Regions from separate parts of the Homo sapiens genome. Here region 2 is linked to region 1. The links come from fine-mapping of genetic effects on gene expression. A gene starts in region 1. The other region holds a variant in brackets. All regions are shown on one strand. Distances are between the middles of the regions.

The links. PIP is the estimated chance that this variant, and not a neighbour inherited with it, causes the effect. A credible set is the group of variants that fine-mapping cannot tell apart.
Region 2: its variant is the best candidate, but not a certain one, in a credible set for the expression of MTURN in whole blood (TOPMed, PIP 0.78).

The regions. Positions count from the first base shown.
Region 1 is chr7:30,132,760-30,137,154 of GRCh38, forward strand. It overlaps MTURN (maturin, neural progenitor differentiation regulator homolog), which reads left to right and starts at 2,227. Exons shown (of 3, transcript NM_152793.3): 1 at 2,227-2,539. The coding sequence starts at 2,378. It overlaps LOC105375216 (a long non-coding RNA gene), which reads right to left and starts at 1,955. Exons shown (of 3, transcript XR_927146.3): 1 at 1,845-1,955; 2 at 558-696. RefSeq lists silencers at 2,125-2,374, 2,145-2,522, 2,715-2,854, 3,175-3,354.
Region 2 is chr7:30,094,472-30,098,866 of GRCh38, forward strand. It overlaps a transcript of PLEKHA8 not described here. Among named protein-coding and RNA genes, the nearest start is that of MTURN, 38 kb to the right of the region's middle. The variant C/T (reference allele first, on the strand shown) is at 2,053.

The sequences.
Region 1 (4,395 bases):
AGTTGCAGATGCACATAAAACTTAAAATGGCAGAGGGAGGAATCAATGCAGACATGGAGTTCTGAAGCTTTTGCTGTTGCTCTCAGTGCATTTCTAAGGAAACCCAACGGTATCCATTTCATTGACCAATTGCTTTGTACCCAAAATTTTATTTTTCATAAGAGTTTTTCATTTTCTGACAAAAACTATTTGTTAAATAAACATAACTTCATAATTCTGATCACATCACTTGGAGCAAATTTGACTGATACATTTTAAAACACATGGATTAAAAAAAAAACTCCTTCTTTCCCGAAAAAGGAAAAAAGGAATGTATTTTTCATATTTTCATCTCCAATTTAAGGAATTCATTTTTGGAACACATATTATGCTTTAAATGGTGGTGCCAGGTAAAACTGCAAGGAAGCTTGTGCTATCTGGAGACACCCATACTTTTTTTTTTTAAGGACCATTTTGTAACTTTACAACAGCATATTGCATTTTTATATTCATGTGCCTGTCTCCTTCATTGTCCTGTGTATTAGTTTTCTACTGCTGCATGAAGAATTTAAACAGACCTAACAGCTTAAAACAACACCCATTTAATAGCCCACAGTTCTGAAAGTCGGAAGTCCCAGCACAGCCATGGCATCACTGGGTTCTCGCTCAGGTTCTGCGAAGGCTGCAATCATGGTAATAGTCAGGCTCAGTTCTTGTCTGGAAAAGACAACAAGTTTGAGAAAAAAATCTGCTTTTCAAGCTCATTCGGGTTGTTGGCAGAATTCAGTTCCTTGCAACATTGGCCTAGGCAAATAATTTATGACTAAAACCCCAAAGGAAGTGCAACAAAAACAAGAATAGACAAATGGGCCTTAATTAAACTAAAAAGCTTCTGCACAGTAAAAGAAACAATCAACAGAGTAAATAGACAACCTACAGAATGAGAGAAAATATTTGCAAACTACGCATCTGACAAAGGACTAATATCCAGAATCTACAAGGAACTCAAACAACTCAACAAGAAAAAAAAAAAACCCATTAAAAAGTGGGCAAAGGACATGAACAGATATTTCTCAAAAAAGACATACAAGTGGCCAACGAACATATGAAAAAATGCTCAACATCCACTAATTATCAGAGAAATGCACATTAAAACCACAATGAGATACAATCTCACACCAGTCAAAATGGCTATGATTAAAAAGTCAAAAAACAGCAGATGTTGGTGAGGGTGCAGAGAAAAGGAAACATATATACGTGTTGGTGGGAATGTAAATTCGTGCACAGTGCCTGGTTCAGAAGACACACTTTACAGAAAAAAGCTGGCTGAATGTTTATAACGTGTCTGTGTTTGTAGTGTTCAAGTCCTGAGGGCGAGGACCCTAGTGCATTTTCTGCAATCCAGTAATGCCTGTCCAGTATATGGCAGCCAGTGAGCACTCAACAGGTGCAATCGTTGGGCCACACACTCTTGTTTTAAAATGTGCTTTATCCTCTTGACCTTTTTAGGTTATGCAATGTGAATTCAAGCTGAATAATACTGAAGCCAGTCTTATGAGGCTCATTTCTAAGAAATATTCAGCTTTACGTAACGCAAATAAAAAATCACACACGCCCTTTGCAAGTGAACATTCATATTAGTGTCTGATAAATGCATTAAGAAGACACATTCCCTTAAATCAATCGGAGAACAGAACTTTGGTTTCTGCAAAAAGAAAAGCTCCCTTTTCCTTAGATTTTCTCAGCTCCTCCACTGCTAGCCCCAGACAAGGTCCAAGTTATCTGCAGTTCTATGGCCTCCCTTGCATTTAAATCGCATTTGGGCAAACGCTTCCTGGGCTTTCTAACTCCACAGAAACGCTAACCAGGTATTGGGCGCTCGCACCGCTTCCAGGTAACCCGCGGAGCTGCGGATTCCAGGCTCGCGCTGTGACGTCACCGGGCTCGCAAGCCGCGGCGCGGTCTCAGGCTCCGGTGATTGGCTGGGGCCCATGACGTCACGGCCCGGGGCGGCACCGCGATGGCCAGGGCCCCGGGATGCTCCGGGTTTGTTTAAAAATAAAGGGGGGGCGGGAGCGCCCAGGAAAATCCGGGCGCCCGCGGGGGTGCCGGCCGCTCCTCCCGCCGCCCCGCGTCCCGGCCCGGCCGCGCCAACCCCCACGGCGGCCCGCAAGGGGGCGGGGGGAGGCGGGGCGGAGGAGGAGCCGCGGGCGCGGCGCCGCGCTGTCCCCGGCCGCCGCCCGCCCCACTCCGCACCGCATGTAAACAGTCCCAGCCGGCCCAGCCCGGCCCCGGAGGAGCCCGCGCAGGCCGAGCCGAGCGCCGCGCTGCCCGCCCGGGAGGAGGGCGCCTAGGAGCGGGAGGGCGGGCGGCGGCGGGAGGCGGGCGCGGGGCCGCGATGGATTTCCAGCAGCTGGCCGACGTTGCGGAGAAATGGTGCTCCAACACGCCCTTCGAGCTCATCGCCACCGAGGAGACCGAACGCAGGATGGATTTCTACGCCGACCCCGGCGTCTCCTTCTATGTGCTGTGTCCGGACAACGGCTGCGGCGACAATTTTGTGAGTGCCTGGAGGAGGGACCGCCGGAGCCGGCGGGAGTGTGGACGCGGCGGTGCGTCCCTGCGCCCGAGCTCCCGCGCGGTGGGCGGCGGTGGGCGCAGAGTGGGGGGCCGTAACCCGCGCCCCGCGCCCCGCGTGCTCCGCCGGGGAAGCCCCGGGCCGGGCGGTGCGGGCTCCGCTGCCCGGGTGGGGCCCGGTGGGCGGCGGGCAAGGCGCCCGGAGGATCCGGGGAGCCGGGTCGGGGCGGGAGGTGTGGCGTCCCCCTAAAGGCCACTCCTCTCCCCGCTGCTGCGGGCGCCGTTTCGGGAACCCGACCTCGCGGCCCGTGCGCGGTGCCTGGCATGGAGCATCCCTGGGGTGTGGGTGTCACCCGCGTCGGACCAGCCGGGTCTGGGGCGCACGGACCCTCCGGCAGGAGCCCAGGTCCGGAGCTTCCCACATCCAGGCGTCCCGTCCGGGATAGGAATCCCGCTCCCCTCCGGTGCCCAGCCTCGGCTCCTCGCATTGCCCCTCCCGGGAGAACCCCACTCCCCGCCCTCGCGGGTTAGTCCTTGCACTGCCTGTTTGGACACAAAGCTCTGTCCATACTAGCGATGCCCGATCTCCTGGACCTTCTTTGCGGAATTACACCCCGGATCTTAATACGCACGCGCGCCTGCGCATACACCCCAACACACACACACACATGCTCACACCCTCACCCTCACACGCGCACACTCACGCGCACACGCGGCACGCCTCTCCCCCTGCCCCCGCGCTGCCCTCGCTGCCTCTCTGAGCTGCCCGAGAGGTGTGTGTGGCCCGGGCGGGTTCTCTCCAGCCGAGGCGGTGCCCTGGCCCTGCTGAAGCCCGTTGGCTTTTCCAGATGACGGGGAATCCCCTCAGCCCCGGCTCAGAGGGACCGGGAACTGGGACTGCGGTGTCCAAACCTTCCACTTTGAATCCTGCACCCACCTGGGATCCCGACTCTGGCAGTTGAGGAAGGGGATGCGGAGGGCAGGGGAGTCGGGGTGGGAGGGGTGGAGTAGGGCGAGCACGGTGCTCATGAAGTGTTTCCAAGGTCGGGGAATAAATAATGATCCCCAAATGTAAGATGGAGGCGGCCGTGGGCGCGGGTGACCGTGTGGTCGCGGGCCTTGTGGGCGGAGGTGGGGTGGTGCGGGGCGCGGCCTGGTGCACGCTCCTCAGGTGGGGGAGACAAAGCTGGGCCGTGGTCCTGCCGCCGAGCGCCCTGACCACCTACGGGAAGTTCGCGAAGGAGTTAGGGAGACTGCAAGACCGCCTTTCTTGGTCCTGGAGAGGTGAAGGCTTATGTATGCCTGGCCGATAAAGCATTCCCTCCGCCCACACGCACCCCCTGAGGAGGGCAGGGATCCACCTGGGCATTCCACAAGTGGCACTCCAGAAGAGGGATGGCCTTGTGTGACAGCCAGATTTGAGTTCTGGCTCTGTGACTGTGCTCAAATACCCACCCTGAGCTCAGTTTCCACATCCAAAAAAATAGGTATAATAATGCCAGCACCCAGGCGTTCATATAGGTAACGCACCGAATAGTCCCTAACACACAGCAAGAGCCCCACAAATTTGGGGTTAGAGACCTGGGGTTTCCCAGAATTTAGAGCTTGTCTCATTTTTTAAAGAGCCTTGGTTTTCCCACCTGTAAAATGGGGCTAATCAGAATACCTCCAGAAGAGCCAACTGAACAATAATATTAATGCCTGTAAGCCCATCTTAACTGTAGGTAAAGTAAGTAAATAAGTGTTCTTTTTGGAAGGAGTGGGAGATCATTAAAAAGGGATTCACTCCATTGCAAAAGTGTGAGAAAGCCCCCAGGATACAGTGGAAAGGGCACCAGA
Region 2 (4,395 bases), 38 kb before region 1:
CATCACATTGGCCAGGCTGGTCTCGAACTCCTTTTTTTTTTAAATTTTATTATTATTATACTTCAAGTTTTAGGAAACATGGGCACAACTTGCAGGTTTGTTACATATGTATACATGTGCCATGTTGGTGTGCTGCACCCATTAACTCATTTAGCATTAGGTCATTTAGCATTAGGTATATCTCCTAATGCTATACCTCCCCCCTCCCCCCACCCCACAACAGGCCCCAGTGTGTGATGTTCCCCTTCCTGTGTCCATGTGTTCTCATTGTTCAATTCCCACCTATAAGTGAGAACATGAGGTGTTTGGTTTTTTGTCCTCGTGATAATTTGCTGAGAATGGTGGTTTCCAGCTTCATCCACGTCCCTACAAAGTACATGAATTCATCATTTTTTATGGCTGCATAGTATTCCATGGTGTATATGTGCCACATTTTCTTAATCCAGTCTATCATTGTTGGACATTTGGGTTGGTTCCAAGTCTTTGCTATTGTGAATAGCGCTACAATAAACATACGTGTGCATGTGTCTTTATAGCAGCATGATTTATAATCCTTTGGGTATATACTCAGTAATGGGATGGCTGGGTCAAATGGTATTTCTAGTTCTAGATCCCTGAGGAATCACCACACTGACTTCCACAATGGTTGAACTAGTTTACAGTCCCACCAACAGTGTAAAAGTGTTCCATTTCTCCACATCCTCTCCAGCACCTGTTGTTTCCTGACTTTTTAAAGATCGCCATGCTAACTGGTGTGAGATGGTATCTCATTGTGGTTTTGATTTGCATTTCTCTGATGGCCAGTGATGATGAGCATTTTTTCATGTGTTTTTTGGCTACATAAATGTCTTCTTTTGGGAAGTGTCTGTTCATATCCTTCACCCACTTTTTAATGGGGTTGTTTGTTTTTTTCTTGTAAATTTGTTTGAGTTCATTGTAGATTCTGGATATTAGCCCTTTATCAGATGAGTAGGTTGCAAAAATTTTCTCCCATTCTGTAGGTTGCCTGTTCACTCTGATGGTAGTTTCTTTGCTGCGCAGAAGCTCTTTAGTTTAATTAGATCCCATTTGTCAATTTTGGCTTTTGTTGCCATTGCTTTTGGTGTTTTAGACATGAAGTCATGGCCCATGCCTATGTCCTGAATGGTATTGCCTAGGTTTTCTTCTAGGGTTTTTATGGTTTTAGGTCTAACATGTAAATCTTTAATCCATCTTGAATTAATTTTTGTATAAGGTGTAAGGAAGGGATCCAGTTTCAGCTTTCTACATATGGCTAGCCAGTTTTCCCAGCACCATTTATTAAATAGGGAATCGTTTCCCCATTTCTTGTTTTTGTCAGGTTTGTCAAAGATCATATAGTTGTAGATATGTGGCATTATTTCTGAGGGCTCTGTACTGTTTCATTGATCTATATCTCTGTTTTGGTACCAGTACCATGCTGTTTTGGTTACTGTAGCCTTGTAGTATAGTTTGAAGTCAGGTAGCGTGATGCCTCCAGCTTTGTTTTTTTGGCTTAGGATTGACTTGGCAATGCGGGCTCTTTTTTGGTTCCATGTGAAGTCTAAAGTAGTTTTTTCCAATTTTGTGAAGAAAGTCATTGGTAGCTTGATGGGGATGGCATTTAATCTATAAATTACCTTGGGCAGTATGGCCATTTTCACGATATTGATTCTTCCTACCCATGAGCATGGAATGTTCTTCCATTCGTTTGTATCCTCTTTTATTTCCTTGAGCAGTGGTTTGTGGTTCTCCTTGAAGAGGTCCTTCACATCCCTTGTAAGTTGGATTCCTAGGTATTTTATTCTCTTTGAAGCAATTGTGAATGGGAGTTCACCATGATTTGGCTCTCTGTTTGTCTGTTATTGATGTATAAGAATGCTTGGGATTTTTGCACATTGATTTTGTATCCTGAGACTTTGCTGAAGTTGCTTATCAGCTTAAGGAGATTTTGGGCTGAGACGATGGGGTTTTCTAGATATACAATCATGTCATCTGCAAACAGGGACAATTTGACTTCCTCTTTTCCTAATTGAATGCCCTTTATTTCCTTCT[C/T]CTGCCTGATTGCCCTGGCCAGAACTTCCAACACTACGTTGAATAGGAGTGGTGAGAGAGGGCATCTTTGTCTCTTTTGATCTTTGTTGGTTTAAAGTCTGTTTTATCTGAGACTAGGATTGCAACCCCTGCCTTTTTTTGTTTTCCATTTGCTTGGTAGATCTTCCTCCATCCCTTTATTTTGAGCCTGTGTGTCTCTGCATGTGAGATGGGTTTCCTGAATACAGCACACTGATGGGTCTTGACTCTTTATCCAATTTACCAGTCTGTGTCTTTTAATTGGAGCATTTAGCCCATTTACACTTAAGGTCAATATTGTTATGTGTGAATTTGATCCTGTCATTATGATGTTAGCTGGTTATTTTGCTCGTTAGTTGATGCAGTTTCTTCCTAGCCTTAATGGTCTTTACAGTTTGGCATGTTGGTACCGGTGGCTGGTACCAGTTGTTCCTTTCCATGTTTAGTGCTTCCTTCAGGAGCTCTTTTAGGGCAGGCCTGGTGGTGACAAAATCTCTCAGCATTTGCTTGTCTGTAAAGTATTTTATTTCTCCTTCACTTATGAATCTTAGTTTGGCTGGATATGAAATTCTGGGTTGAAAATTCTTTTCTTTAAGAATGTTGAATATCGGCCCCCACTCTCTTCTGGCTTGTAGAGTTACTGCCGAGAGATCAGCTGTTAGTCTGATGAACTTCCCTTTGTGGGTATCCCGATCTTTCTCTCTGGCTGCCCTTAACATTTTTTCCTTCATTTCAACTTTGGTGAATCTGATAATTATGTGTCTTGGAATTGCTCTTCTTGAGGAGTCTCTTTGTGGCGTTCTCTGTATTTCCTGAATTTGAATGTTGGCCTGCCTTGCTAGATTGGGGAAGTTCTCCTAGATAATATCCTGCAGAGTGTTTTCCAGCTTGGTTCCATTCTCCCCATCACTTTCAGGTACACCAATCAGACGTAGATTTGGTCTTTTTACATAGTCCCATATTTCTTGGAGGCTTTGTTCGTTTCTTTTTATTCTTTTTTCTCTAACCTTCTCTTCTCGCTTCATTTCATTCATTTCGTCTTCCATTGCTGATACCCTTTCTTCCAGTTGATCACGTTGGCTACTGAGGCTTGTGCATTCGTCACATAGTTCTCGTGCCGTGGTTTTCAGCTCCATCAGGTCCTTTAAGGACTTCTCTGCATTGATTATTCTAGTTAGCCGTTTGTCTAATTTTTTTGCAAGGTTTTAACTTCTTTGCCATTGGTTCGAACTTCTTCCTTTAGCTTGGAGTAGTTTGATCTTCTGAAGCATTCTTCTCTCAACTCGTCAAAGTCATTCTCTGTCCAGCTTTGTTCCGTTGCTGGTGAGGAGCTGCGTTCCTTTGGAGGAGGAGAGGCGCTCTGACTTTTAGAGTTTCTGGTTTTTCTGCTCTGTTTTTTCCCCATCTTTGTGGTTTTATCTACCTTTGGTCTTTGATGATGGTGACGTACAGATGGATTTTTGGTGTGGATGTCCTTTCTGTTTGTTAGTTTTCCTTCTAACAGTCAGGACCCTCAGCTGCAGGTCTGTTGGAGTTTGCTGGAGGTCCACTCCAGACCCTGTTTGCCTGGGTATCAGCAGCGGTGGCTGCAGAACTGCAGATATTGGTGAACCGCAAACGCTGCTGCCTGATCGTTCCTCTGGAAGTTTTGTCTCAGAGGAGTACCCGGCCATGTGAGGTGTCAGTCTGCCCCTACTGGGGAGTGCCTCCCAGTTAGGCTACTCGGGGGTCAGGGACCCACTTGAGGAGGCAGTCTGCCTGTTCTCAGATCTCCAGCTGCGTGCTGGGAGAACCACTACTCTCTTCAAAGCTGTCAGACAGGGACATTTAAGTCTGCAGAGGTTACTGCTGCCTTTTGTTTGTCTGTGCCCTGCCCCCAGAGGTGGAGCCTACAGAGGCAGGCAGGCCTCCTTGAGCTGTGGTGGGCTCCACCCAGTTCGAGCTTCCCGGCTGCTTTGTTTACCTAATCAAACAACTAACTCGGCAATGGCAGGTGCCCGTCCCCCAGCCTCGCTGCCGCCTTGCAGTTTGATCTCAGACTGCTGTGCTAGCAATGAGCGAGGCTCCGTGGGCGTAGGACCCTCCAAGCCAGGTGCGGGATATAATCTCCTGTTGTGCCGTTTGTTAAACCCGTTGGAAAAGCGCAGTATTAGGGTGGGAGTGACCCGATTTTCCAGGTGCCATCTGTCACCCCTTTCTTTGACTAGGAAAGGGAATTCCTTGACCCTTGCGCTTCCTGGGTGATGCGATGTTGCGCCCTGCTTTGGCTCACGCATGGTGCGCTGCACCCACTGTCCGGCACTCCCCAGTGAGATAAACCCGGTA